Linked DNA regions of Homo sapiens: region 2 is linked to region 1. The links come from fine-mapping of genetic effects on gene expression. A gene starts in region 1. The other region holds a variant in brackets. All regions are shown on one strand. Distances are from middle to middle. Region 1 holds the start of LNP1 (leukemia NUP98 fusion partner 1). Region 2 overlaps TOMM70 (translocase of outer mitochondrial membrane 70).

Evidence for each region. PIP is the estimated chance that this variant, and not a neighbour inherited with it, causes the effect.
Region 2: its variant is fine-mapped to the expression of LNP1 in unexposed skin (GTEx, PIP above 0.99). The same link has a PIP of 0.9 or more in adrenal gland and whole blood.

What each region holds. Positions count from the first base shown.
Region 1 is chr3:100,392,648-100,408,917 of GRCh38, forward strand. LNP1 (leukemia NUP98 fusion partner 1) reads left to right here and starts at 8,892. Exons shown (of 4, transcript NM_001085451.2): 1 at 8,892-9,792. It overlaps TOMM70 (translocase of outer mitochondrial membrane 70), which reads right to left and starts at 8,442. Exons shown (of 12, transcript NM_014820.5): 1 at 7,979-8,442. The coding sequence starts at 8,302. RefSeq lists enhancers at 6,860-7,779, 8,461-8,570, 8,621-8,670, 8,681-8,770, 15,318-15,843 and 1 more and silencers at 8,141-8,220, 8,831-8,910.
Region 2 is chr3:100,359,995-100,376,264 of GRCh38, forward strand. It overlaps TOMM70 (translocase of outer mitochondrial membrane 70), which reads right to left. Exons shown (of 12, transcript NM_014820.5): 7 at 15,024-15,158; 8 at 13,544-13,651; 9 at 12,612-12,728; 10 at 9,044-9,141; 11 at 8,050-8,172; 12 at 3,437-5,723. The coding sequence ends at 5,570. It overlaps NIT2 (nitrilase family member 2), which reads left to right. Exons shown (of 10, transcript NM_020202.5): 10 at 1-1,641. Among named protein-coding and RNA genes, the nearest start is that of TOMM70, 33 kb to the right of the region's middle. The variant G/A (reference allele first, on the strand shown) is at 7,639.

The DNA.
Region 1 (16,270 bases):
TCTCAGGTGATCCACACACCTCAGCCTCCCAAAGTGTTGGGATTACAGGCATAAGTTACTGTGCCCAGCCTGGAGATTTCTTAAAGAACTAGAATAGACATAAAAAGAACTAGAGTAGGTCTACCATTTGATTCAGCAATTCTACTACTGGGTATCTACCCAAAGGAAAAGAAGTCATTATATCAAAAAGACACCTGCATGTGTATGTTTATTGCAGCACAATTCACCATTGCAAAGATATGGAACTGGCCAGGCACGGTGGCTCATGCCTGTAATCCCAGCACTTTGGGAGGCAGAGGTGGGTGGGTCACCTGAGGTCAGGAGTTCAAGACCAGCCTGGCCAACATGGAGAAACCCCATCTCTACTAAAAACACAAAATTAGCTGGGCATGGTGGCGCATGCTTGTAATCCCAGCTAGTCGGGAGGCTGAGGCAGGAGAATCGCTTGAACCCGGGCAGCAGAGGCTGCAGTAAGCCGAGATTGTGCCATTGCACTCCAGCCTGGGCAACAAGAGTGAAACTCTGTCTCAAAAAAAAAAAAAAAAAGATAGGGAACCAACCTAAGTGCCCACTGATAAAAGTGTAGTATATATACCCATGGAATACTACTCGGCCATTAAAAAACAAACATGAAATAATGTCTTGCAGCAACTTAGATGGATTTGGAGGCCAATATCCTAAGTGAAGTAACTCAGAAATGGGAAACCAAATACCATATGTTCTCACTTATAAGTGGGAGCTAAACTGCAGGTACACAAAAGCATACAGAGTGACATAACGGACTATGGAGACTCAGAGGAGGGGGGTGGCAGAGCATGTAAGTGATTAAAAAAAAACTACATATTGGGTACAATGTACACTTGGGTGATGAGTGCACTAAAATCTCAGACTTTACCACTATACAATTCATCCATGTGACCAAAAACCACTTGTACCACAAAAGATATTGAAATAAAAAATAATAAATATATCTTTTCTCTCTTCAGTGTACTGAGACTTGTCAAACGAGGCAGAACCTAGGAACATACCCCTCAGCTCTTAATGACATGAAATCTACTCTAGAAAACAGGTTACATTTTGAAATGAAAGCTACAATATTAAGGTACAATCCAGGTAAATCTAGTGGAATACAAAGTAAGAAAATCAGGTTTTGCTTAGGATAGTCAGTGAAGGCTACTCATGAGAATCCGCTCTGAAATAAAAATGACTAACAAAAGACAGGAAAGTACTCCAGGAAGGAAAAATAACCCTAAAAGGATTAGCCCACATATAGAACCTCAGGAGATCAGAAATGCACCAGCCTCTAAAAACAAGTCCTGCAACACGATTACATGACTACATTGCAAAAAGCTGTCAATGATATACATCTGGCAATAAGAAAACTATTATAAATTCTCAGCATTTATAAAATATTAACCTGATGATCACGTATAGTCACTGTAAAAGAAAATGAGCTAGAATTAGGTACATTAATCTGCGTGTGAGAAAATAAAATGGGTATTAATTTGTCACCATGATGACACACTTATACCCAGTTAAAATATACCTGAGATGGTTTGATGTTTCTCTTAAAATGGTTTTATTGTTTTAAATTTCTCAAACTCAAAAAGCATATATTATACTTGAATCACAGCTTTATAGAAGTAGCAAATAACTCTGGAACACTTACTGTATGAGAAACAATGTTTCAATACTTATTGACCAACTGTTACTTTTTCTTTTTTTTTTTTTGAGATAGAGTTTTGCTCTGTCGCCCAGGGGGGCACGATGTCCACTCACTGCAACCTAAATAACTCTGGAACACTTACTGTATGAGAAACAATGTTTCAATACTTATTGACCAATTGTTACTTACTTACTTTCTTTCTTTTTTTGAGACAGAGTTTTGCTCTGTCACCCAGGCTGGAGTGCAATGGCAGGATCTCAGCTCATTGCAACCTCCACCTCCCGGGTTCAAGTGATCCTCTCCCCTCAGTCTCCTGAGTAGCTGGGATTACAGAAACCCACCATCATGCCCGGCTAATTTTTGTATTTTTGTAGAGATGGGGTTTCACCATGTTGGCCAGGCCAGTCTTGAACTCCTGCCCTCAGGTGATCCACCTGCCTCAGCTTCCCAAAGCGCTGGGATTACAGGTGTGAGCCACTGTACCTGGCCAACCAATTGTTACTTTCATATGAATCAAACCTAGGATAATAATACCTAAGATAATAAGGATTCAAACCTAATAAGGAATAAAACCTAAGATAATAAAAAAGTCCTTTCCCATTTCACGTCTGGAAATTTTAAAAATGACAACCAACCCCACCTACTAAATCATAATAACTCTTTACCTAGGAAGAATATACTTTTATAATGACTGCTTCTGCAGGATTATGATTGTAGGTCATGCATAATCAACTGATTTACAAAAAGTATGCCCAAATGAGGTTTAAGATTTACGGCCAGGCGCGGTGGCTCACGCCTGTAATCCTAGCACTTTGGGAGGCCGAGGCAGGCAGAGCATGAGGTCAGGAGATTGAGACCATCCTGGCTAACATGGTGAAACTCTGTCTCTACTAAAAATACAAAAAATTAGCAGGGTGTGGTGGCACTCGCCTGTAATCCCAGCTACTCGGGAGGCTGAGGCAGGAGAATCGGTTGAACCCGGGAGGCAGAGGTTGCAGTAAGCCGAGATTGCGCCACTACACTCCAGCCTGGGCAACAGAGTGAGACTCCATCTCAAAAAACAAACAAAAAAACCCAAAACAAACAAACAAAAAATTCACCAGGCATGGTGGCGAGCTACTCAGGAGGCTGAGGGAGGAGAATCACTTGAACCCAGGAGGCGGATGTTGCGGTGAGCAGAGATTGCACCACTGCACTCCAGCCTGGGTGACAGAGCGCGACTCCAACTCAAAAAAAAAAAAAAAAAGAGAAAGGAAAAAAGATTTCCACGGAATCCAGCATTAACTGGTAGAACAAAAATGAAGAGCTGGAAAATTTGAAAAATATACCACTTGTGAAATTTATATATACATACACACACACATATATAAAATATAAACTTAGGGATGTCAAAGGAACCCTTAATTATTAGTCAAAAAATGAAACTTCATTCATTCAACACTTGCTATGCACCTGTATTAGGTTCTGGCAATACAATGGTGAACAAGATAGAGCCAGTCTCAGCCTTCACAGATTCAAGAGCATAGCAGGAAACAGCAATAAGCAATTCTAGTACCACGTGGTAAGTGCTATAAAATGGAAAAGTCCAGGGTGTTATAAAATCACATAGTGGTGTGCTTAGGTAGAGAGAAGTTTCAGAAAAGATGAAATGACCTCTGTATTGTGATAAGGAGACTAAGAATCCATGAGGCTGGTATCAGGTTTTTTTTTTTTTTTTTTTAAATCAGGAAAATGGAGTACCTCAGAAGCAGCAGGAAAAGTTATGACATTTAGAGCACAATATGAAATACTGCCAAGGATTAAGATTGAAAAGTGTTAACTAAGCTTAGAGGGAATGTCATTGGTGTCCCTGATTGATTTTTTAAAAATGACTCAAAACAGATCATTTGGGGGAGAGAATGACTTCATTTCAAACAAGATGACCAATAACAACAGTTTATGCAGTCCTCGACCCTTTACTAAAATGTGTAGGTACATCTTCCCTTTCCTACTGTAGTAGGCTGGCTTAGATTATTGGTTCCTAACCATTTCATGTGGGCTAAACTCATTTCATGGGCTAAACATATTTAATGCTAAATATGAACACAAGAATGATGCATTTTTTATCATCAGATTAAATAACAATTGGACAAAAAAGTTACAATGAAGTCAATAATGCTTTTAAATAAGTGCATTTTTCTAGAAAATCACAGGATGTTTGAAAAAGAAGTATCTGGGACATTGGTACAGCCAGGATACCATGCTTGGAATATATGTGTGGTGGTCCCTCGTGATGACTCAAGCCCACAGATTGAGAAGCACTATGGATAATATGATCTTCTAAAAAGCCTTGCAATTTAAAATTTTTTTTTAATTCTTCAAGTTTAAAAAAATTACTGAAGCAAAATGGCACATCATGGTAGATTTTATAATAGTTCAAAATGGAATATGATCTAATACTTTAAGCACCTCAGTCTTAGACACTATCAACTGTGACTAAATGCTTTTCTTCAGTGATACCCCAATATTCCCATTAATTAAAACAACTATGAATATCCTTTGCACTTCCTTTACAAGTTTTTGCTATCCCAGAAAAAAGGTAATTGTGCACACTAATTGTAAAGGAAAATCTCCAACCCAATAGACAGAAGTCCAGTAATTCTATCAGATCATTTTACATTAAGGTAAACATAAGCCAAAAGACAAAAATACAGATTTTCCATTCTATTTTCTGATATCAAACCCTAAACAGACAATATTTGTCTATTTATTCATTCCTTTAAAAACTGTAGCTATTGCTCAGGTGGAGAAAGGACAGTTAGGGCATCAGGATTCTGCCAGGTTTCCATCAGTGAAAGCAAATGCTTCTGGTTGCGAAATCCACCGAGGATGCCAATTTAGAGGTGCTATTCAAATGTACAGCAGTTTATCCAACCACAGATAAGAAATTACAATTACTGATCAATTAATTACATTTAGATAGTCTAATAATAACTCTAAGGACCAGACTATTAAAAGAAGACAAAAGTAGTCTTTCAATATTTACTGGTCACCAACAGTTAAGATATAAATTTCCAGTTTAAAAAAATCACAAAGACCTTCCTATTGTTGCTTTACCAAAGAACAATCTAGTAATTCAAAGATTACAGGTGTAGGCCTACATATTCCACAAGATGGACAATGGTAAGTGCAAATGTTTTGCCTTATTTTATTTGGGGCCAAAAATAAATCATTTTAAAGCAGTTTAAGTTACACAAAGAGTCCAATCTTAAATTCTAATTTTTAACAGCAGTCAGGTGAATAAAAAGTTATTTGTGGTCAGGGGCAGTGGCTCATGCCTGTAATCCCAGCACTTTGGGAGGCCAAGGCGGGTGAATCACGAGGTCAGGAGTTTGAGACCAGCCTGGCGAACATGGTGAAACCCTGTCTCTACTAAAAATACAAAAATTAGCCAGGCGTGGTGGTGCGTGCCTGTAATCCCAGCTACTTGGGAGGCTGAGGCAGGACAATCTCTTGAGCCCAGGAGGCAGAGGTTGCAGTGAGCCGAGACCTCGCCATTGCACTCCAGCCTGGGTGACAGAGTGAGACTCCGTATCAAAAAAAAAAAGTTATTTGTAAAACTAAAAAACTCTGAAATATCATGAAATTAAAAAATCATCAGTGTTGATCCAGACAACGTGGAAAAGAGGAATTAGGACATCTAAAATGTGAAAAGGAGATGGCTAGGTTTTATCAAATACCAATGGTACAGATCCCCTGGGATGAGGTGGGGTGGCTGAAACCACAATGAAATGTTAAAATCTAGTTTCAGCCGGTGAGGTGGCTCGTGCCTGTAATTCCTAGCACTTTGGGAGGCCGAGGTGGGTGGATCACCTGAGGTCAGGGGTTTGAGACCAGCCTGGCCAACCAGGCAAAACCTTGTCTCTACTAAAAATACAAAAATTAGCCAGGCATGGTGGCGCATGCCTGTAATCCCAGCTACTCAGGAGGCTGAGGCAGGAGAACTGCTTGAACTCAGGAGGCAGAGGTTGCAGTGAGCCAAGATCGTGCCACTGCACTCCAGCCTGGGTGACAGGGTTAGACGCTGTCTCAAAAAAAAAAAAAAAAAAAAATTTAGTTTCATGTATAGAAACTATCTTTATTTTTAATGTTTACAGAACTGAGAACTTTTTGGATCTTTTATTTTACCTACTATTCTTCCATGATTAAAACTAAATTAACAAACGAAATAGAAAATGACTGGAGAATTTCAGACATCCAAAATTGATGTAAGACAAGTGATAATTAATTCAAATAATCCTCTTGATAACTACTTTTAATAGCAGCAGTGAGCTATTATAAATGATCATAATGAGAATCATCAATTTTTAGTACTGAAAGAAACAGAAGAGATCTAATATTTTAATCCTCTTATTCTACAGGGATGACGCTAAGGTCAAGGAGACAAAATGACTTTCCCAAAGTGACAATGCTGGAGAGCCCACTATAAAGCTTACAAATCCTAGTTCTAACACAGTCCATAAGTTCTTCTACTATCCAGTCATAAACCTTTTAGAAAATAGGTAATGCTTCACTCTCCCATAGGAAAGATCATATGGCTTTCTCATGGCCTAGCACAATGCCTCACACACTGCAGATACTAGTTTGTTCATTCCTACACCAAAACTTCCTTTAAAGCTAATTTGACATCCTAGTAAAAATATCTTCGCCCGGGCGCGGTGGCTCACGCCTGTAATCCCAGCACTTTGGGAGGCCAAGATGGGCAGATCACCTGAGGTCAGGAGTTCAAGACCAGCCTGGCCAACACAGTGAAACCCCGTCTCTACTAAAAATACAAAAATTAGCGGGGCATGGTGGCGCGCGCCTGTAGTCCCAGCTATTCCGGAGGCTGAGGCAGAACTGCTTGAACCCAGGAGGCGGAGGTGGTGGTGAGCTGAGATCGCACCACTGCACTCCAGCCTGGGCAACAAAGTGAGACTCCATCTCAAAAAAAAAAAAAAAATTCAACCTGAATAGTATAATATGGAAATGACTTGCATACATATTTAAGTGTATACACTTGGATACAATTAGAAGTTACTTGACCAACTGTATATACTTATGTATAAAACTGGGAGATATTTGACCAAACGTTTCTCTGACCTCGACTTACTCTGGTACTACCATTGAACAACTCCAGACCCAGAGAAAATCCACCACACCCAATCCCAGTATTGTCAAATGCAGCCAGACTAATTCTCTGCACAGCTGTCAGATACCAAAAGGATTTAACAGTCAGTTCACCAAAACCATACAAAGCAGTTCACTAAATAATCCAATGCTTGGCCTCACATCAGAGAAACTGTATCATGCATATTAGGCTTGGTCATGTACATTTCCAGGTGAAATGGAAAAACTGAATTTAAGATGCTTCCAATCAAAAAGTTTAAGAAGTCACTCCCATTTTTTTTTTTTTTTTTTTTGTATGTGTGTGTAGGCCTGGACCTGGGGCAGGGGGCTGTGTGCAACCAAGCCTGGTGAGCATTGCTGTGGCCGCTACTCTTGTGCAGCAAGAGGGGACAGTGCAGTGCAGAGCGTTTTCTGACAAAGGCCAAGGGGTCCGGAGTGCAAAAGGACACCTTGGGGCTGGGGCATGGCAGGAGAGGTTACGGGCGCTGAGTGCTTGCAGCCAAGGGGGCTTCGGGGTTGCTGAGAGAGGACGAGCCTTGGGAGCTTGACAGTTCTGCTTACAGTTCAGAGGCTGTAAAACAAATGCCACTGAACACCATTTCACTCTTTAGAACCTGTGTAGTCTTTCTTTTTCTATGTAGAAAGCCATCTAATCGTTTTTGTTTTTGTTTTGCTTTTGTCAACTAACCGTCACTGTAGTTGCCCACTTACCCCCAGCAAAAACACACTCCAAAAGGGGGAGTGGCTCATTATTAAAAGGCTCTTAGCGATTAGGTTGTAGGCTTTGGAAATCACAGAAACAGTTCGTATCACGATGTACCAATTGTTAATCGAATTTAGCTTCCTTCACTTATTAAATACAATCATCACATTTGCAAATGCCCCACTCCCATCTACAACACTAGGGATAAATGCTGTGTCACTGAGAAGAAAAGCAAAGGATTTTTCTGAAACCAAAAGCAAACTGTCAAAGAATGCCAGTAACCTGTCATCGAGCTACTCTATGCCCTCCACTGGCAGCCAGAAATGAGTCTCCCTAAACCCAAGTGTTGTGCTGCCGCTTGGCAGCTTCCGTCTGATGGGAAGCCCCCTCACTGACACAACCCGCCAAGGAAAAGCTGCACGAGCCAGTTTCCTCCTCTACGGCCTGGGGCTGCTTCTCACCATGTCCAAGTGAGCACCGGGACCTTCAGGGTGTCCGCTGCCCGGGGCCGGACTGGCCCTGCCCTCCGGGGTCTTCCGTTCGCTGTTGCGCTTCAGGCCGCTGGCGTCGCCCCGGCCTCTGGCCTCCCGGCGCCGTTGCTGCCGACTCCACAGGTATATGGCACCCGCGCCCAGCAGCAGGGGTGCCCCGACCGCCAGAGCCAGCTGCCATCGCGGCAGCCCCCCCGTGCCCGGGCCCGCAGTCCCGCCGCCGCCCACCCCACTCCCGGAGCTCGGTACAGCGGCTGCGACCACCGCTGCCTCCACAGGTTTAGAGGCGGCCATGACAAGTGTCCTCTGCCACCGCCTCCCTGTCTGTCGCGAGCGCCACAATCACCAAACAGCGTGCGAAGGAAGACCGAGGGAGGGAAGGAAAGCAATGAGCGAGCGAGCACGCTAGGCAGAGAGAGCGGACGACAGAAAAGGGCCAGAGGTCACCGGAAGCCCAGGGCATGCCGGGCCAGACCTGGCCGTCCTTCTCCTCCAGTATCAACCGAAGAGGGAGAGGAGGGGCGGAAATCACTTCCGGGTTAAGGGAAAGCGTGGGTGTGAGTAGGAGTCTTCGGAAACCCTTTTTCTTTCTTTTCGCCCCGCTGCTGTTCGGGAGATGGACTTCTGGAGTCCCCGTCGTAGCTGGTGTTGTCCCCTCTACCTTCAGGAAAGAAGGGCAGATGGCCCTCTTGCCTACTGAAGCCGAGGAGGGGCGCGTATACAGCGGGCTAAGGGCGCTCAAGAGATCCGAGTGGAAGAAAAAGCAGCGGCACAGCACTGGAATGGGCGGGAGTGGCAGAAGAGTTGTGAAGGCTATTGGCTAGCAAGGGTGGTGGGCGGGGCGTAGACCGAGCTACCCAGTTTACTGGTCGATTTCGGATCCAGTTTTCCAGTTATAGCCACGTTGGCACCTCTTGAACCTCTGTGGCCGTTAGCACGGTTTTCTGCCCGCGTGCCCGAGAAACCAACGGATTAGAAGGACTTTTAAAGATGTGTGAGGAAAGAGCTCACCGCTGAAGAAGGCTGCTGCATCACTGAACTTCTTATCACTAACATAGCGAGATTTTAGTTTGGACGAATTTGAGGTTATAGGGGAGATAGCGATGGCAGAAGACTAGGTGGAAATGGCACATCTAGGTTGGCTGCAGTCGAAACGGTTTGAGCGTGGTCGCTGTGGCTCATCGTCGGCACCAATTAACGAAGCGATGACATCTGCGTTGTTAGGGGTTTCTTAAACTGAGTTGGTAGAAATGCGAAGCGTCAGGGTTCCCGCCGGCTTCGAGCCTTTCTTGGCGTATTTGTATCTTGAGCTGATTTCTGCGTCAGCCCACATCTCGCTCTGATCCGCACGCCCCCCGGGTTGTTTTGCAGTAGCAGTCTCAGCCCTCTTCTCGTCTCATTCCCAAATCGTAATTTCAGTTCACAGCTTTTTATCTATAATAGCTTTATCAACTCTTTTTCCGATGCTCTGCACCAGATCTCTTAAAATATAAAATTACCTTGCAAGGTATTGTTTGGAATACACGGTATTTTCATGAAGACAACTATTAATAGAAAAATCAGAGTCCAGAACTATGGTTCTCCATTTCTGGTATACTGGTTTGCAGAAGCCTTACATTAAGATTTCATAAATGATTGTTTTGCTGTTAAGTGCAACAACATCACAGTAGAGCTACATAAAGATTGAAAGGAGATATTTTATCAAGTGGCACCAGAATGGACTGATTAAAATAGAATGGCCTAATTGGAAAGAATTTCAGGATCACCGGTTTCTCCTGCTTCATGTAAGTTCCTATTAGTAAATTGCCTTCAGGCAATAGGGTTTCTTAGCAACAGACTAAAAAAATGGGCTAAAAATAGCAGTGGAATTGAGTTGATCGTTGCAGGCAATAGGCTTTTCTCCCCTCCTGATCCCCCAATCCCCAAAGGCAAATTTTCTGCCCCTTAATATAAGCTCTGCCTTGCCTTTTTCAGAACACAAGTTAGGATTTTTTTTTTTTTCTGAAATTTCAGTTTTGCTGTGGCCTCTTGGAGGATTGTAGAGTGCTAACAATTACAAACTTGATAGGAACTAAAACATATTTGAAGTTTTTTTTTTAAACCTTTTTCTTATTTATTGGAGTAAGCAATACACTGTTACGGTTAAACTCCAAAAGTTACAGAGTTTACTGTGAAAAGTCTTCCTTCAGTCCCTGTCCTCAGCTGCACAGTTCCCCTCTCCAAAGGGAATCGGTGTTATTTTCTTGAAACATTTTTTGGATTAATATTTATCTAAAGGCCTGATTTTGTTTGGCTTTATTTTTAAGGTTGGCATTAGTAAACGAATCTGTTCTGGTTACTTTTATACTTTGATAAACATCTCATTTCCATTCTCTAGCCTATGCTATTCTCTCATTTTCTCCTCCATTTCCTAATTGATGGTACTGTAGAGCCAAATAGAGTGTCGCTTACTGGCTTTGGGACCTTACTGATCTGATGCATGTTTTTCTAATCTGTGAAATGGTGAAAACATCTACCTCTCAGGCTATAGTAAAGATTTAATTAGAGAATATTTAAAGTTCTTTTGATGTTTGTTACAAAGCAATAGATATTTGATGATTAGTTCTCAGTTTTTCTAAATTTTAAAGTAAAGAAGTAAAATACTGCCTTTCATTTCTAAAAAATTAAAGTTCTGTATATGTGAACATAGACATTATCTTTTTCTTGGTAGATTAGTGGAACTCAACTGAAGAAGCTTTCTTCACCTTTGATCTGTATCTTAGGAGGCAGTTAAATGAGATAGTCTAATGGACTAGGTTGTGGAAGACCTGAGTTTTTTTTTTTTTTGAGATGGAGTTTCGCTCTTGTTGCCCAGGCTGGAGTGCAATGGCGCCATCTTGGCTCACTGCAGCCTCTGCCTGCAGGCTTCAAGCAATTCTCCTCCCTCAGCGTCCCAGTAGCTGGGATTATAGGCGGCTGCTACCATGCCAGGCTAATTTTTTGTATATTGGCCAAGCTGGTCTTGAACTCCTGACCTCAGGTGATCTACCTGCCTCGGCCTCCCAAAGTGCTGGGAATACAGGCATAAGCCACCATGCCCAGCTGACCTGAATTCTTATTCTAAATTTTAATACCACTGAGTTGTGTGTGTGACCATGGGCAACTCTGCTTTCTTTATAATGTGAGGAGGGGTGGATTAGATTATTTTTAAGGCTCCTTATTGTTTTAAAATGATGTAATTCTGTCCCTTCAATTGTCATTGCTACATGAAAGGCCTTTCAGATTGCTAGAGTTGGTAAATAGCTGGTTGACTGGTGTCCAAACCTTCCAGCCAGTGCACAAATCTGCTTATATTAAGCATGTACATATAGAACAGCTCTATTCTCTTTCAGCTGTCTGATGTTTTCATTCTGTTTTTCCTTACTGAAAAATTACTGAAAAGAATTGTCTACATCTGTTACTTATTTGGCACCCATTTCATCCAAAATCTGTTGTAATCTAGTTTACAACTTTATAATTAGGCTGAAAGTGCTTTAGAAGTCATAAAATTCATTGTGGTTTTTTTGTGGGTGGGGGAGGTTGGCTGTCACCCACTTTTACTTGATACCACTGATTATTCTCTCCTTGAAATGTTCTTTTCCTTGGCTTCAGGAGAATAGAGTCTTCTGGTTCTTCTACGCTCTGACCAAACTCTAGATCAGTGCTGTCCATCACAGCTTTCTATGATGCTGGAAATGATTTATATTTATGATGTCCAATATGGTAGCCACTAGCCACATGTGGCTATTGAGCACTTGAAATGTAGTGTGACAAAGACTACAGTTTTCATTATTTAATTGATTTAAGTAGTATCATGTGGCTAATGACTACCATATTGGACAGCACAGCTCTAGATATTCCTCAAGTGAGGAATTTATTAGAATATGTCTTCTTCTTTATCTTCAATCTCTCCATTAGTAACCAAAGTAAATCTCATTGCTTCAGGTACCATTTCTGTGCAGATAATCACTGTCTATATATCTTTTGGCATAGCTTCCCTTTTTACCTCTAGCCCTATATTTCTTACTACTTACTGAGCAGTTTTGCTTGGATTCCTGACTTTTGTCAAAAATATAACTCATCATTTTCCCCACTCATTCTTTCTCTTTGTGTTATCCTTTTTTTTTTTTTTTTTCCAAGATGGAATTTCGCTCTGTTGCCCAGGCTGGAGTGCAGTGGTGTGATCTCGGCTTACTGCAACCTCTGCCTCCTGGGTTCAAGCGATTCTCTTGTCTCAGCCTCCCGAGTAGCTGGGACTACTGGCGCCCGCCACCACACCTGGATAATTTTTTGTATTTTTAGTAGAGACGGGGTTTCACCGTGTTAGCCAGGATGGTCTCGATCTTCTGACCTCGTGATCCGCCCGCCTCGGCCTCTCAAAGTGCTGGGATTACAGGCATGAGCTACTGTACCCAGCCTGTGTTATCCATTTTTTCTAATAATACCACTATTACCTTAGCAGTTACTCATATTTGAAACCATAGACCTTTTTAGACCTCTCTCTTTTTCATCCTTACCTACCCAAGCACAAATGATTATGCTGTTGTATTTATATACACACATAAACACAAAATCAGCTGTGAAGTCTTCAACAAATTCAACTTTGTTGTAATATCTTTCTTATAGTTTTTTCACCCATTCTGACACTTCTTAGTTCATATAAGTGAAAACTCCTAAGAGTATGTATAACACATAACAGATACTCAATAAATAGTTTCTTCCCATCTTAGTACAGGCTGCTATAACAAAAATATCATAAAACTACTTAGCTAATAAACTATAGAAATTTATTTCTCACAATTCCTGAGGATGGGGGTTTGAGATCAGTGTGCCAGCATGGTCAAATTCTGTAAGAGCCCTATTCTGGGTTGAGGACTGCAAATTTGGTTTGTGTCCTCAAATAGTGGAAAGGGGCAAGAAAGTTCTCTGGAGTCTCATTTTTATAGGGGCACTCATCCTATTTTTAAGGGCTCCATCCTCATGATCTAATCACTTCCCAAAGGCCTCAACTCCTAATACTATTACATTCCCCTCTTTTTTCTCTTTTATTCATTTCCTTCATCTTGCCTAAATCCTATATTTGCTTGCTTCCCAGATAATTTCTCTGCCTCTAGTGCCTCTCTTCTATGTGTCACCCTGCACCTTGATATCAATTTACTCTTCCTATAGCATAACTGTAATTTCACTCTTGAGCTGAAAGACTTTTAAATCCTCTTCACTTTCACTATAAAGTTCAACATTTCTGCCCACCCATGCCTCCCTTCATACACCTCTTCTCTTTCTTTGGTCTACGATATTAGCACCTAGCACTATTAGAAATTACCTATGTGGGCCGGGTGCAGTGGCTTGTGCCTGTAATCCCAACACTTTGGGAGGCCGAAGCGGGTGGATCACCTGAGGTCAGGAGTTCAAGATCAGGCTGACCAACATGGTGAAACCCTGTCTCTACTAAAAATACAAAAATTAGCCGGGCATGGTGGCACATGCCTGTAATCCCAGCTACTCAGGAGGCTGAGGCAGGAGAATCGCTTGAACCCCAGAGGCGGAGGTTGCAGTGAGCCGAGATTACCCTATTATACTCCAGCCTGGGTGACAGAGTGAGATGCCGCCTCAAGAAAAAAAAAACCTCTCAGGTGTACACTTGTCTGTGGGAAAAATAAAAAAATAGTGTGATCCCCTCAATAGGATGTAAGCCCCACGAGGACAGAAACTGTTCATTTTGTACAGCCAGAGCCCAGAATATAGGTGGTGTGATGGGTAATTTCATGTGTCAATTTGACTGGGCCATGGGATACCCAGATACTTGTTTAAACATTATAAATGTGTCTGTGGTGGTGTTTTTGATTGCTTGATTTTTATTTTTTTATTTTTATTTTTTGAGATGGAGTCTTGCTCTTGTTGCCCAGGCTGGAGTGCAATGGCATGATCTCGGCTCACTGCAACCTCCGCCTCCCGGGTTCAAGCGATTCTCCTGCCTCAGCCTCCCAAGTAGCTGGAATTACAGGTGCCCGCCACCATGCCTGGCTAATTTTTGTATTTTTAGTAGAGACGGGGTTTTGCCATGTTGGCCAGGCTGGTCTTAAACTCCTGGCCTCATGATCCGCCTGCCTCAGCCTCCCAAAGTGCTGGGATTACAGGCATGAGCCACTTCGCCTGGCTGATTTTTATTTTTAGTGTATCTATTGTCGGTTTTTGCTTCAAAAAACATAGATATTACAGGTTATTTTAGACTGATAACAAGTTAACTTTGATTATTTACACATACACATGCAAACTACACTTTAACTCCACTTCCTTTCCTCAATATTTTGTGCTTTCAATTTCACAATTTAAGTATTTTTATATTGCATATCCATCAACAAGTTGCTGTAGTTATTAATTTTAATACTTTTATCTTTTAGCCCTACTAAAGATACGTGATTTACACACCCTCATTACAGTATTTAAATGCTACCATTACAGTATCAGAGTATTATAAATTAAATTTAGCTATGTACGTATTTTTGCCAGGGAGTTTTATACTTTCAGATGTTTCTGTGTTTATCATTAGTGTCCTTTCAGCTTGAAGAACACCCTTTAGCATTTCTTGTAAGACAGGTCTGGTGGTGATGAACTCCCTCAGATTTTGTGTGACTAGGAAAGTCTTTATCTCATGTTCATTTCTGAATGACAGTTTTGCTGAGTACAGTATTCTTGATTGACAGTCTTTTTTTTCCTTTAGCACTTTGACTATATCATACCACTCTTCCCTGGCCTGTAAGATTTCTGTTGAGAAATCTGCTGCTAGGCATATTGGAACTGCCGTATATGTTACTTGCTTTTTTTGTCTTGCTGCTTTTAGGATCCTGTCTTTGTCTTAGATCTGTAGAGTTTGATTATAATATGTCTTGTGATAGTCTTATTTGGATTGAATCTAATTGCAAATCTTTGACCTTCCTGTACCTGGCTATTTATATATTTCTCCAGGTTTGGGAAGTTTTCTGCTATTACTGCTTTAAATAAGCCTTTTACACCCTTATCTTTCTCTACTCCCTCTTGAATGCTGGTAATTTGCGTATTTGCTCTTTTGATACTATCCCATAAACCCTATAAAGTTTCTTTATTCCTTTCCACTCTTTTTCCTTTCTTCTCCTCTGTATATTTTCATATAACCTGTCTTCAAGTTTACAGATTCTTTTTCTGATTGATCAATCCTGCTCTTGATGCTCTCTATTACATTTTTACATTCATTGTATTTTTCAGCTCCAAAATTGGTCTGATTTTATTATTTCAATTTATCTGGTAAATTTCTCATCTGACCATTTATTATTTTCCTAATTTTGTTGACTTGTTTCTCTGTATTTTCTGAAGTTCTTTGAGCTTCTTTAAAACAGCTGTTTTGAATTCCTTGGCAGATAGTTGATATATCTGTGTCTTTAGGGTCTATGACTGGCATCTTATTTTGTCTGTTTAGTGATGTCATGATTCCCCGATTGTTCTTGTGGTCATGTGTCAGTGTGTGTGCATTCAAGAAGCAGTTACTTATTCCAGCCCTCACAATCTGGCTTTGTCTGGGAACATCCTCTAACAGTAAGCCTGTCCAGAGATTCTAGGCAGGTCATTTGGTGTGGTCTCCGAGCCTGTGACCACTGCAGCCCTTCCAGCTCTAGGGAGTGCTATGTACTCCCTACTGTGACCAGCACAGTGCCACGCTGAAATCCCGTAGTCACTGAAGCTGACTTAGCACTGGGATGGAATCCTGTGGCTGCTGAGGCTGGTGCAGCACTTGGGTGCACCCAAAGCCCACAGCTGCTGAGGCTACTGCAGCACTGGGGTACATCTGAAGCTTGCAGCCACTGAGGGGGCCTGCCTGTTGCTGTGGGTTATTTGGATCCCAAGACCACTGTAGTTGGCTGATGGTGATGTGGGCTGGAACTCAAGTTTGTCTCACAGGGGCTATGGTTTCCCATCTGCTGCCGGGATGGGTCTAGAGTCTCAGTCTGCAGTTACTGGCCTGAAGTCATGGGTCATGGGGGGGTCTACCCAGTGCTGAGTTTTACTGTGACAGGCCTGGTATTGGGGTCCAAGGCAAAGTCTTACCTTTACTTTCCTCTCTTCCTCCCAAGCAGACAATATCTTTTTCCGGGCTGTGCTGCCTGGTCTTGGGGGAAGGGTGACATGGGTAATGTAAAACTGTTCTTCCTACCTACTTAAATGTGTCTTTTCTTATTATTATGCTATAACCAGGTGCTATAATCTCTCACC
Region 2 (16,270 bases), 33 kb before region 1:
TCTGAAGCATATGACAGGTTCATTTACTATCCAGCCCACCAAAACTCAGTTTTTGAGCTCCTCTATGTTCATCTTTTTATGGCTAACCCTCACCATCATGAGTGCTTAGTAAATGTTGAGTTGGAATGAATTTATTCCTACAGGTTGCACTTGCTCTCTCACCAAGTGTTCTGGCCAAATAATTCTGGAATGATTTCCTTACCTTAAGGGAGTCTGATCTGGGAAGAGCCTGGGACGTGATGTAACTTCATATGCTGTAGAGCTGAATATTCATTTACTTAAGATCTTAGCTCCATTAGAAAGCAGTGAAAGCAGTGTTAATTCAGAGGCCGGGTATGGTGGCTCACGCCTGTAATCCCAGCACTTTGGGAGGCCAAGATGGGCAGATCACTTAAGGTCAGGAGTTCAAGACCAGCCTGGCCAACATGGCAAAACCCCATCTCTACTAAAAATACAAAAATTAGCCGGGTGTGGTGGCACATGCCTGTGATCCCAGCTACTCGGGAGGGTAAGGCAGGAGGAGGTTACAGTGAGCCAAGATCACACCACTGTACTCCTGGGCAACAGAGTTAAACTGTATCAAAAAAAAAATGCAGTATTGATTTAGAGCTAAGGTCACCTGATGCTCAGGCCAGTAATTTCTCCCTGCATCATGCTGTTGTCTAAGGCAGACACTGTAAAGCTCTACACTGCTGAAAAACTAAGCTTGAGATGCATAAAAGAACACATAGAGATGGGGAGTCAGTTCTCCATACATTTTGTGAGTAGAGGCATTGGTGTTTTGTTCCAAACTATCCAATCGAGAATGTTCATATAATGACAGCTTTGGAAGGTAGAGACTATCTTCCTCTGGATCATAGGACAGGTTTGTTTACTATCTGATACAGTCAAAATAGTGTTTCCCTCTAATGCGAAAGTCAGGCCAGTTTGCTTGTGACCTCATTAGATTTGGGCTGTGACGCAAACCCACTGCATGTGCAGTATCCACCTAGCTTGCCCTGTGTCACTCCCATGGGATCTGTGGCTCAAACTCATGTTGCTTGCTATGTTCTAAATAATTAAGTCTGTTGTCTGACCCAGGAGTCTCATGTCTTCTGCCAGCATTCAGAAAACTAGTTTTCAAGAAGGGTAACATCTTAGACCTTTTACAGCTCTTGACACAGAGCAATATTGAGAAATAAAATCAGGTAAAAGTTATTTAATATAGCAGTTCATAATTTAGGCCATGGATCATCTCTGCAGAGAATCCTACCATGCTGCATTCTTGCTTTAAACCTTTCGCCCTCTAAAACAATGCCCAAGAGCCAATGTTAGTCATGGTCTTCCTGTATTTGCTCTAGGTAAGCTGTTTCATAGCCTTCCAGGACAACACTTGCACAGGTTATCTTTAAGCACCAACAAAAGAAATGGAGAAATTTGAGCCATGTATCCTGAGCTCTGAAAGGCAGCAATCATCTTGACCCCAAGCATACACCATGTTCAGCTTCCTCCCCTTGGCCAGGTACCACAGCTACTTCTATCCCAGTGATCAGCAGGCCCTCCAGCATGAAGACCTTTGAGAAGGATCTATAGCTGTCAACTCCTAATATGATTTGTGCACTATCACCTTGAAGTAAACCAGACTAGTTATTTTCATGCTAAGAGTCTGAAAACAGTGCCTTCTTTCTGATGTCTCTTGTAGAATATTGGCAGAGGGATCTCAATTTTTACTTTATACCTGAAGGGCAGCTTTTTGGTCTGATAGTTATAGTGCAATCATTCATATTTTAAATCACAAATACCCCCACTTGTTGATGAAAACTCCAGTCTGTGGCATGGGTGTACATTCACTGCCTAAACCATCTTTGGCCAAAATTTGTGTGTATATGAAGTCATTCTACTTTAGCATACTCAAAGGCATTCCTTTAAACCATTTATCTGCTTGTACACAATAGCCAAAGGAATATTTGTTACTATGGCTGATGTAATAAACTATCATCACAAATTTAGTGGCTGAAAAAAAACAAAGTTATTCTCTTTTACTTCTGGAGTCCAAATTCATGGGGCCAAAATGAAGGTGTTGGCACTCTGCTCTAGGGCAGGATCCGTTTCTTGCCTTTTCCAGTTTCTGGTAGTTGCCAACATTCTTTGGCTTGTGGCCACATCACCTCCAGTCTCTGCCTCTGTGGCAACACTGCCATCTCCTCTTCTGTCTAAAACCTTCCTCTTACATAGACATTTGTGACTGCATTTTAAGGTCACCAGATCATCTAGGATAATCTCCCCTTCTCAAGACCCTTCACTACATCTGCAAAGCCCATTTTTTGCCAACTAAAGTAACATTCACAGGTTGCAGGGATAAGGATGTGGCTGTCTTTTGGGGAATCATTACTCATCCTATCAGTGTGGTAAAGCTTGCAAGTAAATTAAAATTTTGTCACTTTGTTCACAAATCAATTTAGCAGAGGATGGGAATAGGACTAATTATAACCCGTATCCCCACAACAACTCCTAAGTTATTTCCTTATAAATACAAATTCCATACAGGACAGTCTTGGGTAATTGTTATTCTATACTCCTAAGTTTCCTGGTTTGGCTATATTGTCCTCCTGTTATAGTCTTATAACAATTAGTTGACTTCTACAGGTACAAACTACTATTTAAACTACAATTTGAGTTCCCAGAGGGCAGAAAGTTCTGTCTGAACTGTTTTACAGCCAAAGTTGCTTTTTATTGTTTTGGGATGTATTCTCTACTTATACCACAATTTTCGAGGATGATTATTTCAGGTATGCTTTCTGAGAGACTCCACGTGGTTGAGAACTATGATCAATCTCACTGGTGAAACCAGATTCAAAATAAACTTATCCACAGGGTCCATGTCTGATTGGCAAGCTTCCAGGCTGCTGTGCATGTATGGGTAAGGTAGAGGCAAAGAATGAAATAAGTTGGCTCTACCAGCTCTCCGTGGAGCCTTGTTTCACAGTAGGAGGGGTGGATGCTCTCAAGAAACTCCACCATTCATACCAACAAACTTACTTTGCTTCATATGCTAACATTTCCTGTATGTTCCTATTTTCAAAGTTATTTTGAGTTCACAAGAGATTCACTGTGAATTTACGCAATAGCATAATAAATGAATAAACTACCTTTTTTTTTTTTTTGAGACGGAGTCTTGCTCTGTTGCCCAGGCTGGAGTGCAGTGGCGTGATCTCAGCAGGTTCACTGCAACCTCCGCCTCCCGGGTTCAAATGATTCTTCTGCCTCAGCCTCCCAAGTAGCTGGGACCACAGGCGCCCACCACCACACCCGGCTACTTTTTTGTATTTTTAGTAGAGACGGATTTCACCGTGTTAGCCAGGATGGTCTCGATCTCCTGACCTCGTGATCTGCCCGCCTCGGCCTGCTAAAGTGCTGGGATTACAGGTGTGAGCCACCATGCCCAGCCTAAACTACCTATCTTTCTATTTAAAGAATAGATAGAAGAGCTTGAATGTAATATTTATTTGGTGAATTTACATGTGAGGTCATTTACAAAAGAAAGATACAGACAGATGCAGCTTTCAGTGCAGTTTCAAACATTTTCACAACAGGCAATAGTCCATGAGAATTTGGAATGACAGTATAGAATGGCACATGCTTCAGTTTCCTTTGTGTTTCTCTACCCAACCCCAAGATGAAAGAAGGGAGAAGAGTAGAAGAAAATGTCAGTGTTAATGTAAATACAGCCATGCAAATAAAAACTTTTTTAAAGTCAGAGGTCATTCAGAGATGTAGAACATTTCTGTATTTGGGGGTTATCAGAAGGTGCATAATTTAAAAACAAAATGCAGCGGTCTCAAACTTCCCATCATCCAAATCATCTTGAATTATATTAACTGCACCAACTAATTAGTGACCTCCTCAATATTTTCCAAAGATTGACTTTGAAAGGGAGTCATTTCTAATAGTTTCTAAAAAAGATAGCATTTGTAGACAAATCTTTTTGGTTTCAACAGAATTAAGCACCCTTAAGGGGTGTAAAAATGCTCCTTTACTCCCAACAGTGTAAACCATAATTATAATTCGTTCTTAAATAAACCTCTCCCCATCCTGAGTATTTCAAAACAAAAGACCCCTGAAGAACACAACCCTTCCCTCACCAGAAAAATCTAGCATATAAGCAAAAGGATGGTCTATAAAAGTGGAAAATGGAAATAAATCGTAAAGTGATTTCTAAGTAAGGAGGTGGAGTAAAGCTTAAACACTGTCAGTACCCCTAGTGAAGACCTGGACCTGGGTAGTTAGTCCTTAGAGATCAAGGTTAGCTCACTACAAAAAGCACTCTACATGTCCTCAGCATCTTCAAAAATAAGTGGCTCAAAATTCCTTAAGCACATGTAGCCATAGTTAAAGCACTAAACTTGTTATTTCAGGAAATACTATGCTCTGGCTCCAAGTCTTACATCCTTTTTGACCCTTTAGCCACATGTCCTTCACGAGAAATTTTAAGCTATTTTAATACTCCCATATATCACACTTACTCTACCTTTATTTGGGTTTTACATACAAGCAATCTGCACTTTGATTTTAAAAAAGTTCTAAAATTTTTTAAAGGATGGGGTCTTGCTATATTGCCCAGGCTGGAGTGCAGTGGCTATTCGCAGGTGCAATCATCATGGCACATTACAGCCTCGAGCTCCTGGTCTCAAGCCTCTTGCCTCAGCCTCCCTAGTAGCTGAGACTATAAATAGTATATACAGTGCCACTGTACCCTCTATCCTACATTTTTAAAAGCTCACCATTAAATAGTACTAATTATTATAGAAAATAGTCACAGACAATTATAAACACACTACTGTTTCATCTTACCTCTTTGTCTGGTCCACTCCCCCATCAATACTCAGTCTTCCAACACATATATCAATTAGAATATTTTGCATCTGCATAATTTACTGCAAGAAAATCTGCTGTTGTGGACTTTAAGAAGAATGTACACTATCCATTAGAGTGGAAAGGGGCCAAGAGGATTAATAAGTGCCACCAAGTTTCTAAAACTGCAGAATCAGAGGCATTGTGCATGCTGACAATGGTTTAAAGGGTCTCTCAATTTTACTTTAATCCCCCATTTAACCTTTGTTTCTTTCAAAAAATCAACTGAAAGCGGTTAACTGAATATAAATCTATTTTACAGCATTTACTACGTTAATTTAAAAATCAACATGCTGTAAAATACTTACATTATTCACACATATATAGACGGAATCATCCAGAACATAATCAACTGCCAACCCCCCTTAAAAAAAAAATCAACAAATCAGTTTTTATTTGCATGGCCAATTATCATTTGTACTCTTTGCAACTTTATTTAAAAATCCCTTTAACATGTTCTAATCTTTTGTTGCACAGGGAATAAAAGCTGCAAGACTGCAAACTTCCTTCAACAGCCACACCCACAACACCTAGACATGAAACAGATGTAACAAATAACAACACCACAAACAGAAATACTGATTTCCACCATTCAACACAGTTCATGACAGTGTCTTTAGGGTTCAGTTGAAGAGGGGGTAAACTTTTAAAAAGAGGGTCAGTCTGCTTTCCCCCTGTTTTATAATGTTGGTGGTTTTAATCCGTATTTCTTTGCAACTTCTGTCTGGGCATGGGCGGCATCGCAAAGTGAATACAGATGGGCCATCTCCATTTCCGATTTGGCCAGGTTAATAGCTTTGTTGAACATGTCAATGGCTTTCTCCATGTTTCCTCTAAAAGAACAAAATTTTTAAGTCTCAGATTCAACAAGCACTTCACAATATTCAATGAAGGTTGTAAGTGATGGTACATGAAGTCTGACCACTAAGTTTCTTCACAATATTCAATGAAGGTTGTAAGTGATGCTACATGAAGTCTGACCACTAAGTTTCTACTATGATTCTAGTAAAATGCTTCTTTTAAAATAAACAAGAGTACCTACCACATTGAAAGCACTCAATGAATGTCAACTACTATTACAAATACTATGTGCTTACATTATATCCCTTGTATTCTGTGTTTACTGATAAGAACAGTCAGACTAGGGAAATTGATTGGCTTATTTAAAATCACAATTCCGTCTGGTTCCTAAATTTTACATGTTTCTACTGTTAACATGAGACTCCTTTAGAAAGCAGTGACATAATACCGGGACACTAATGACATGCAAGGGCCTTACCTTCACAGACTGATGTGGGCCCACCTCTTTCTGTTTCATCTCTTACCAGCACATCCCCAACCCCATGCATCTCTACTCTTCAGGCAGTCTATGTGAGTTCCTCACACCTACTCAATAAATACTCAGATTTATTGCCTCTGCCTGATTCTGGTCAAATCCACAGCTATCTAAGAACCAACTGTTTTAAGTAACTAGTATTAGCTACATATATATGCAATCCTACAAAGAATATTAAGTCCCTACTATATATATATATACCTGCATATACAGAGTCTAACTGGCATACATGTTAGTAAGGTACATTTTATTGGCATATGTGCCAGTTAGACTTTATATGCCAGTAAGAGGTACCACTAGGGTGACTATATTTAATCCCCCATTATAATATATGGCAACGTGATAGGCTTATTTTTAAAAAAAACTTTTTTCAAGAGTTCATGTTCTGGCATTAGGCCAACAGCTAGCAGATCTGCAAAATCCTAGGATAATCTGCAATTTCATTTATTCAAATTCACTTATTTAATTGTAAGGTTCAGAATGGATTTTTTCAAAGTTCAATTAACGTGAACAAAATTCCATCAAACCCTATCAGAGGTCTTTAGTTAACCCAGGATCTATGAAAGCCTTGAATTAAAAGCAAAGTGTTTTTGTGTGCATTATTCTAAGAAGAATCCACAGCTTCGCTCAAAAAAGATTAAGAACTACCACCCTATCCTATTCTAGTACAAGAATATTTTATTCACATTAACAAATTAGCAATTAAGAAATAATTTAGGCTGGGTGCAGTGGCTCACACCTGTAATCCCAGCACTTCAGGAGGCTGAGATGGGCAAATCACTTGAGGCCGAGAGTTTGAGACCATCCTGGCCAACATGGCAAAAGCCCATCTCTGCTACAAATACAAAAAGTTAGCTGGGCATGGTGGTGCATGCCTGTAGTCCCAGCTACTTGGGTGGCTGAGGTACAAGAATCACTTGAACCTGGGAGGCAGAGGTTGCAGAGTCAAGATTGTGCCACTGTACTCCAGCCTGGGCTGGAGACTCTGTCTCATAAAAAGAAGAAAAAAAAACTTAATATTTACATGCCACTGTGGGTACAGAATGGTTAAAAGAAACACAATTTTTTTTTTACCAGCCTATATATATTCTGCCTACTGTAGAGCAGGGAGAGGACTACAGGAGGGGCTGAATGATAGGGAATTAAGAAAACTCATGCTGCTTCCTGACAAGTGATAATGCCAAGATCAGTGACTGTGGTATCAGTGATATATGAGCTCAAACCCTGTCTTCTCTATTGGCTTACTGTGCAACCTTGTAAACCTAAGCCCTCTGGGCATCAGTTAAATTAGGGATCATATAATCTCCACCTTTATAAAGATGGGGATGAAGATTAATTGAAATAGTACTTAGGAAACATCTAAAGTTTAATACTTGGCCTAAAGTAGGAAACTCAAATGAATGGCAATACCA[G/A]TATTAAGATGGTATACAATAAATCCCATATATAAAACAGCTGTCACCTTTTAATGGTGGATCTTAAGAGCAACTCTGGATAAACACTTACACAAAATAAGAGGTTAAGGACAGAGCTGCAAAAAATGTTCTTATCCAACTCTGATTTTAAAGAAAATTCAGGGGCTCTGAGTTGATGTTGCAACTTGCCCAGCCATTTGGCTGGATGCTTCTTTGGAGGAGGGTCCAGATTTTCTGGCAACTTGGCTACCAATCCTTATGTCACTGCCTTAGCACATTTTTTTTTCCAACGTGAATAATACAGGTGAAAAGAGGAAAGAACATAACAGACTTTAACATGTACGTAATAAGAACAAAAAGCTAAATATCTATGGAGCTACCATATATTTCCTAACAGACTCCAGAAGTTACCTTTGTACTTCAATAGTTCCCATGGTTTCATAGGCAAAATCACATTTATTGTCAATTTCAATAGCCTTGCTGATAAGTTCCAAACCTCTATCCAGATCTTGCTTCCACTGAAGTTGAAGTAAACTGCAAATGCAAAAAAATGTCAGATGTGACCATGGCCCAGTATCAGTAGGAATACACACACATTAATATGACTCAATTTCTGCCTTCAATGAACTTATAAGTTAACTTATAACTTATAAGGCAATATATAATCAGCATCAAATTGTGTTTTTTTTCTCAGCTTATATTGGTTTGCTAGTCTAAGTTCCTTATTACAAAAAGTGTTCAATGGTCTAGGCTCTATTACCAATCTTGCATCCCTTATTTTTCACTTTATATAAATTTAAGTGAAGTTTCTTAGGATAATTCAAGTACGCAAGGACACGAACACTTGTGTATGCTTCGTATTTGGATATAAGCCAACAGCTGACAGGATGTTCAGTTTGAAATTAAAACCCTTAACACAGAGCAAGAATAGTACATTAATTTCTTTCTTTTTGTTTTTTTTGGGACAGAGCCTCACTCTGCCGCCCAGGCTGGAGAGCAGTGGTGCAATCTTGGCTCACTGCAACCTCTGCCTCCCAGGTTCAAGTGATTCTCACTCCTTAGCCTGCTGAGTAGCTGGGAATCGGGCATGTGCCACCACACCTGGCTAATTTTTTGTAGTTTTAGTAGACACCGGGTTTCACCATGTTGGTCAGGAGGGTTTCGAACTCCCAACCTCAGATGATCTGCCTGCCTCGGCCTCCCAAAGTACTAGGATTACGTGTAAGCCACTGCGCCTGGCCTCCTTAACTAATTTCTGTAAGAATGAAAAGACATCTAGGAGCATTAAGAAGTTTGTCAATTAACTTCTCTACCACAGTCCCCTTCCTCAGTGGCCAAAATAAATACATTTTATTACTATGCAAGAAATTTATTATCTCATTGGAACAATCACAAAAATACATACCCTTTATGAACATATGTTGTAGCATTATCTGGTTCCAAATCAATACATTTATCATACATTTCATCAGCTTTACCAAACTGTTGTTGATCTGTTAATGCCTATGTGAGGAGATACTTCAGTTATATTAAGGTAACCGTCAACCTAAGCAGTTAAAAGTATACTTATTATTCATTATAAAAATTTACTTCATTCATTATTACAAAATTATCACGTTTTGGGGATACAGACTGATTTACATTTTACATCTTAATTATCGGAGTTTTTAGGTGGCACTGCTATAAATATGAAATCTTAACTATCCTCTTTCTTCAGCAAGTGGTTAGTTATATGCCACAGCAGATAATCTCTGGTAAACTGTTCAATACAGATAATCCCATTCTTAGTCACAGCTCTAATATCACATTCTCATAGGTACAGTCACATCACTTATTCATAATTTATCATAATACAGCCCAAGGGAATTTTTTTTTTTTTTTTTTTGAGATAGAGTTTCATTCTTGTCACCCAGGCTGGGGTGTAGTGGCGCAATCTCTGTTTTCTGCAACCTCCGCCTCTTGGGTTCAAGTGATCCCCCTGCCTCAGCCTCCTGAGTAGCTGGGACTACAGGCGCCCAACACCTTGCCTGGCTAATTTTTGTATTTTTAGTAGAGATGGGGTTTCACCATGTTGGCCAGGTTGGTCTCGAACTCCTGACCTCAGGTGATCCACCCACCTCGGCCTCCCAAAGTTCTAGGATTACAGGAGTGAGCCACCGCACCTGGCCAGGGAATTATCTTAAGGGCAATATTCATTTGGAAGTATAAGTTAAGATGTATGTGTTAAATGTCTTCAGAGCTATTTGTTTAAAATTATTGATTTTTTAAAAAGCAGCTATAACTGCTTCAACTAATATATCTCCAAAAATAATTCCCTAATATTATCTATAATACCTAGCCCATATTCAGTTAACCCCGGTTATTTATAAGATGACTTTTAAGAAGTATGTGAGTCATTATATTTAGCTGTATGGCTCTTAGTCTTTTCATATCTAAAATAAGCCAACTTAAATATTTTAAAAATCGCTCTTAAAAATATCAAAGAAATGTAGCCAGCACATCTTCTTTATAATAAAAATCAGAAAGATATAGAAAGTAGAAATATTTTTATAGCTTCCATCATTGTGAGCATGGATGCCTTCCTGATATATTTTTCTATCTCTATTTACTTCCCTATTTGTTTTCTTTCACATGGTTGAGTTCATTTTGTATGCAATTCTCCCTTTAATAATAGGCAGTGCTGTATCTTGCTTTGTAACTTTAATGTATTTGTAACTTTTAATGGCTGCATAATATACCATTAAGTGAGTGTACCACAATTCTGCAAACATAATTCAATTTTCTGTTAACATTTAGGATTTTCCCCAATTGTTTGTCATAGTTAACAATAATGTAATAAATACTTATTTTGAAAACAAAAGCAGCAGCTATAATCAACTTTTTAAGACAAATCCCACGGCTGAAATGGAAGGCACAGTTCTGTGGATATCAGACTATGCTCAAGCTGTAACTTTGCGAGTTGGCCAGCATCTACGCCAAAGCTTTGAGGGCCAAAAAAGTTACACTAAGTATATATATATACACATACACATACACACACACGTACTGTATGCATATATAAAGTTACATATACTATATAGTGAAGCTAAAATTAGAAAACAGACCAAAGAAAAGAAATTTGAGTGCAAACTGACTGTAATAATGCTAATGCTGATGAGAAGACAGCTCATACAAACCAAACCTATCTTGAAGGCAGAATGGTAATAGGGAAATATGCTATTGGGAAAGTTCTGCAGAGGAGTTGTTCCCCAGTAGTGGTTCCTATTCGGTGGCCTTTGCTCTTCTAGATGCTTAGAGAAATCTGCACCAAAAAAGCCCTTCTGAATTCCATGACAATGATGAGGATGTTGCTGTCATTTCCTGGTTTGTTACTAATTATAAGGCATAAACTCAAGTGTACCCATTCATAGGATTAAAATGTACACTTTAATGTAGTTATATATAAGACCTACCTCTAAAGAACAGATCCAACACAAATCAATTTTCTCATAGTTCCACCCTCAATAAACCCTTAAAATCCTTGTGAAATTGTTCTTATAACCTGCCTACAGATACCATGAAGGAAATTAAAAACAAAATAAGCATCCTTAAGAATGGTTTAAGGAGAGGGGTCAACCAGCGATGGTATTTTTTTTTTTTTTTTTTTTTTTTGGAAATGGAGTCTCACTCTTGCCCAGGCTGGAGTGTGGTAGTGTGATCTCAGCTCACTGCAACCTCCGCCTCCTGGGTTCAAGCGATTCTCCTACCTCAGCCTCCCGAGTTGCTGGGATAACAGGTGTGCGCCAAACCACACCCAGCTAATTTTTGTATTTTTAGTAGAGATGGGGTTTCTCCATGCTGGCCAGGCTAGTCTCAAAACTCCTGGCTCAAGTGATCCGCCTGCCTCAGCCTCCCAAAGTGCTGGGATTGCAGGCAGGAGCCACCACACCCAGCCAGGGGATAGTAATTTGTTATCGTTTCCTATTTCTGTGCTGTGGGGAAAAACCCAACATGTCTTTTGTAATTAAAAAGAGAAAAAAAAAGAAAAATAAATTACATAGAGCAGCAGTCCCCAACACCTTCCCAGCACTTTTGGCACCACGGATTGGTTTTGTGGAAGACAATTTTTGCATGGATGGGGGTAGGAGGAGGAGGGATGGTTTTGGGATGAAACTGTTCCACCTCAGATCATCAGGCATGAGAATCTAATGCTGCTGCAGATTTGACAGTGACAGGAGGTGGAGCTCAGGTGGTGATGCTTGCCCAAGGCTCACCTGCTGTGCAGCCCCATTCCTAAGAGGCCACAAAGCAGCTGTACCCCTGATATAGAGTATTGAGATGGCTAGTTTATGTAGACACCAAAACCAATTTTCAGCTTTAAGAAAGAAAACTGAGTCATTCAGAGATCTTTTATTTGAGGGGAAAATGTATGACCGTCACTACAAGAAGCTAATCATTTTCATTTAAATGGATGATTTAAAACTAAGAAGTTTTCAAGAATTTCAGACTACAATAAAAAAATTCAGATTTAAATCCTGCTTTCCATAGCTTCAATCCTAAACCAAGAGAGTTTCAGGAATTTTAGATAAAGCAAAGATAAATTAAAATAAACCGTTACAACAACCTAGCCATATAAAAAGGCAGTGACCAGATAGAAAGAAAAGCCTTTCCGTGGATATTTTCTCCACCAATTGCATACGGTAAATTTTCCTAAGGTAATTACTTTTTGCAAAACCAATCCAAATGAAGACAGGAGGGAAATTCTCGCCTTAAGCTTCCCCATATTGAGTTTAGGGCCATGATTTCCAAATTGTGTAACAAAGGAGCCTCTTCTGAGGTGATTCGGGACCAACCAGGGGCCATGAGAATCAATCAGGAACAAAGCCACCTGCTTCCAAAGAAGCTGCAACCATGATAGCACTGTTTTCTGATTTCCATACTGAGATTTGGCATATGTATGCAGTTATTTTTAAAAAACCTGAAAAAACATTTACCTGGGCGTATAGTGCATAGCCTTCGGCACACCTTGGAAATTTCTTTATGACCTCTTCAAAACCTTTCATAGCTGCTTGGATTTGTGAAGAGTTGTTTCCCGTATATGCCTGGCGGTACTATAAAAAATCAAAACAGGCCTGTCAAATCAAGAACTCAAAAACTCATGGAATGTTAACATAAACACACAAAATTACATAAATATTTCCAAAAAAACAGGTGATTTGCTAACATAATCTGCAGCATCCAAAAGGGTTCCAAGTAGGTATCTCAGCAGCAGAGAGCCAAAGGTTATGTACAACTAGGACTCCATGGCCACTATACAATTTCAAGATGTTCAATACTGTAGAAGAGGGCATACTAATTTGTAAGAAGTGAACTTTGCAATAAATGAATTTTAAATCTAGTAAAATTTTTGTCATTTTCATTTATAATATATATTTGTGACATAATTTCTTCCTTTAAACTGAAAATTCTTTTACGACTCCAGCCATACAGCTAACTGGAAGTATCTTATTTTACTAGAAAAATTTTTACTTAAAAAAAAAAAAAAAACAACCTTTTGAGCTTTGTGTTTCTGAATATTAAGAAACAGTTCTATGAAGCAGGGGTGAGAGAGCAAGTTACATGGTGTCATGTTTACAGAGTGTTTCCTCAAAATGTTTTTGCTCTTTATATTGATTTATGATGAAGCAGGGAGACCAGTTCTGTTTAGGGAAGTATAAAATCAGGGACAAACATCTATCAAGATGAACCCAAACAAATGTCCAGAGAAATACAAGAGCTAGGTATCAATCAGCACCTTTTTTCCTCAGTAGTTATCCTTTGGGAAAGAAAGAAAAAGACGACTTTGTAGACAATGAGATACTCATTTTTGTTGACGCTGGAAAATAAAAGTGATGTTTAGGAAAATACAAAAGAAAGTAGTACCTACCAATGCAAAACATTTCTGTGCTTGTGCCAGAGCAGACTCAGGTCTTAACCTAATACATTCATCAAAATCTGCCACTGCTTCTTCAACTTGATCAAGGAGTATTTTCAGCTAAGAAAAAAATACGTAAATAAATGTAATTCAACTAGTCCAGTTAAGTATGTTCAGTGTCTCATCTCTATTATTACACCTCAGCATAATGCTGAGCATGTAGTAGTAATTCAATATATAATTACTTTCTAGAAACAGTGATTTAAAAATCTTGAAATTTAAAAGGCAAGATTCCAAAACATAAAAATGGTATCCAACTTATAGAAAGGACTACAAGCCAACCATTTCTGCCCTGCAATTCTGATCACTATTAAGCAAGAAACCCCTTCTTCTAGAAAACTAAACATCCTGTACATTCTAATATCAAAGCAGGTTAGACATCAGATAATTACCTTTCAAATTAATCTTCAGACACTACCAGTAAAGATCAAAATGTCAAGAATTTTAAGAGGTTATCTCAACACTTAACACCCTTCTGAAAGAAATACAGTCATGCATATTTACATTTCAATCAACAGACCACATATACAACAGTGGTCCCAAAAGATTGTAATACTGCATTTTTACTGTACCTTTTCTATGTTTAGATATGTTTTAGACACACAGATACTTACCATTGTGTTATAACTGCCTATAATATTTGGTATAGTAACATGCTATACACGTTTGTAGCTTAGGAGCAACAGGCTACAACATACAGCTTAGGTGTGTAGTAGGCTATACCATCTAGGTCTGTAGAAGTACACTCTATGATGTCCACACAACAAAATCGCCTAATAATGCACTTCCCTGGCAGGACACATGACCCTATTAGGTAAAATTCTCCATTAGAAAGAACTTCGGCTCTTCTGTTATTATTAATGCATAGCTCACACTTTATACCATAATGCATTCCAAGAAGCCATGTTAAGCTGATTATAAAGCCATGTTTTCCCCACTTGAGGCAGTAATTGGAAACTGTTTCTTCACTATATATTTCTACTAAAAAACTAATATGCCTGTTATAAAACTTCAAAAGATAAATATATTTATTTTTACTATTTGGACAGTCCAGACTATTTCCTTATAGCAAGAAGCTCACAAAAATCATCCTGTTGATTCTAGAATTAACTCACATTGCTTACTAAATGTTATTAATGTTTTACTCATTGAAACCTATGAACCAGAAACACCAGAAAAACAAACTTGAACTGGTAAGCCAACAGTTTTTGCCTTCCTTTACTCTTTTTTCATAAGTAAATACCAAAATTAAAGACAAATATTCAAGACAGACTAAACAAAGGCCAATTCAAACTGTAAACCACTGTGATACTTTGTTCACAGCTATCAGAAATTATATAAGAAAACTCAAGAAAATTACATAAGAAATTCTCAAAAATGGTATCAAAGCTCAATCCACAAGTCAGACCTCTAGGTAAGAAAACAGACTTACCTGTCCTCGGTGGTGATAAACATCTGCATTCTGAGGATCGATGTCAGCAGCCATGTTAAAATCTTGAGTGGACAGCAAAGGCTGCTGCTGTTGCATGTACATGCTGCCTCTTTTGATGAGAGCATTTGCTCGAAGCTATATACCCCAAGTGAGGAAAGGTTCATCATTACTTTTTTTTCCCTCCAATCTAGTTTCTTTAAATAACAGCTTTTTTCTATAATCCACATATCACAAAGGTCACCCTTTTAAAGTATGCATGTCACCTGTTTTTAGTGTATTCACTAAGTTGTGTGTTGATTACCACTATCTAATTCCAGAACATTTTCATCACCCTTAAAAGAAACCACATACAAATAAGCAGTCACTCTCCATCCCCCTCACCTCCTACTCTTCAGCCCCTAGAAAACACCAACCTATTTTCTATTTCTATGGATTTGTATATTCTGGATGTTTCATGTAAGTGGAATCATACATTATATATAGCCTTTTGTGTCTGGCTTCTTTGATTTAGCATAATGTTTTCAAGGTTCATCCATATTGTAGCATGTATCAGTTTTTCATTCTTTTGTTATGCCTGAAAAATATTCCATTGTACAGATATCACATTTTATTTATCCATTCATCAACTGATGGACATTTGAGCTGCTTCCACTTTTTGGCTACCATAAATAATGCTGCTATGAACATTCACATACAAGGTTTTTAAAAAAGCTTTTTAAAAATAGAGATGAGATTTTGCTACGTTACCCAGGGTAGTCTAGAACTCCTGGGTTTCCAAAGTGCTGGGATTACAGGTGTGAGCCTCCACACCCAGCTCTCATGTACAAGTTTTTGTGTTAACGAACGTATTAAATTCTCTTGGGTATATACCTAGGAGTGGAATTACTAGATCATATGGTAAGTTTCTGAGGAATTGCCAAACTAATTTCCAAAAGGGCTTCACCATTGTATTAATATATTTCCACCAGCAATGTATGAGGGTTCCAATTTTCCACATCTTCAAAAACACTTATTATTGTCCAATGTTTTTTATTAGAGCCTTATTGTCTTTTTGATTATAGCCATCCTAGTAGGTGTGAAGTGGCATCTCATGGTGGTTTTGGTTTGCATTTCCCTAATGGCTAATGATGCCAACAATCTTGTCATTTATTATTGGTCATTTGTATATTCTTTGGAGAAATGTGTATTCAGATCCTTTGCCCATTTTTAACTTAGGTTGTCTTTTTATTGTTGAGCTCTAAGAGTTC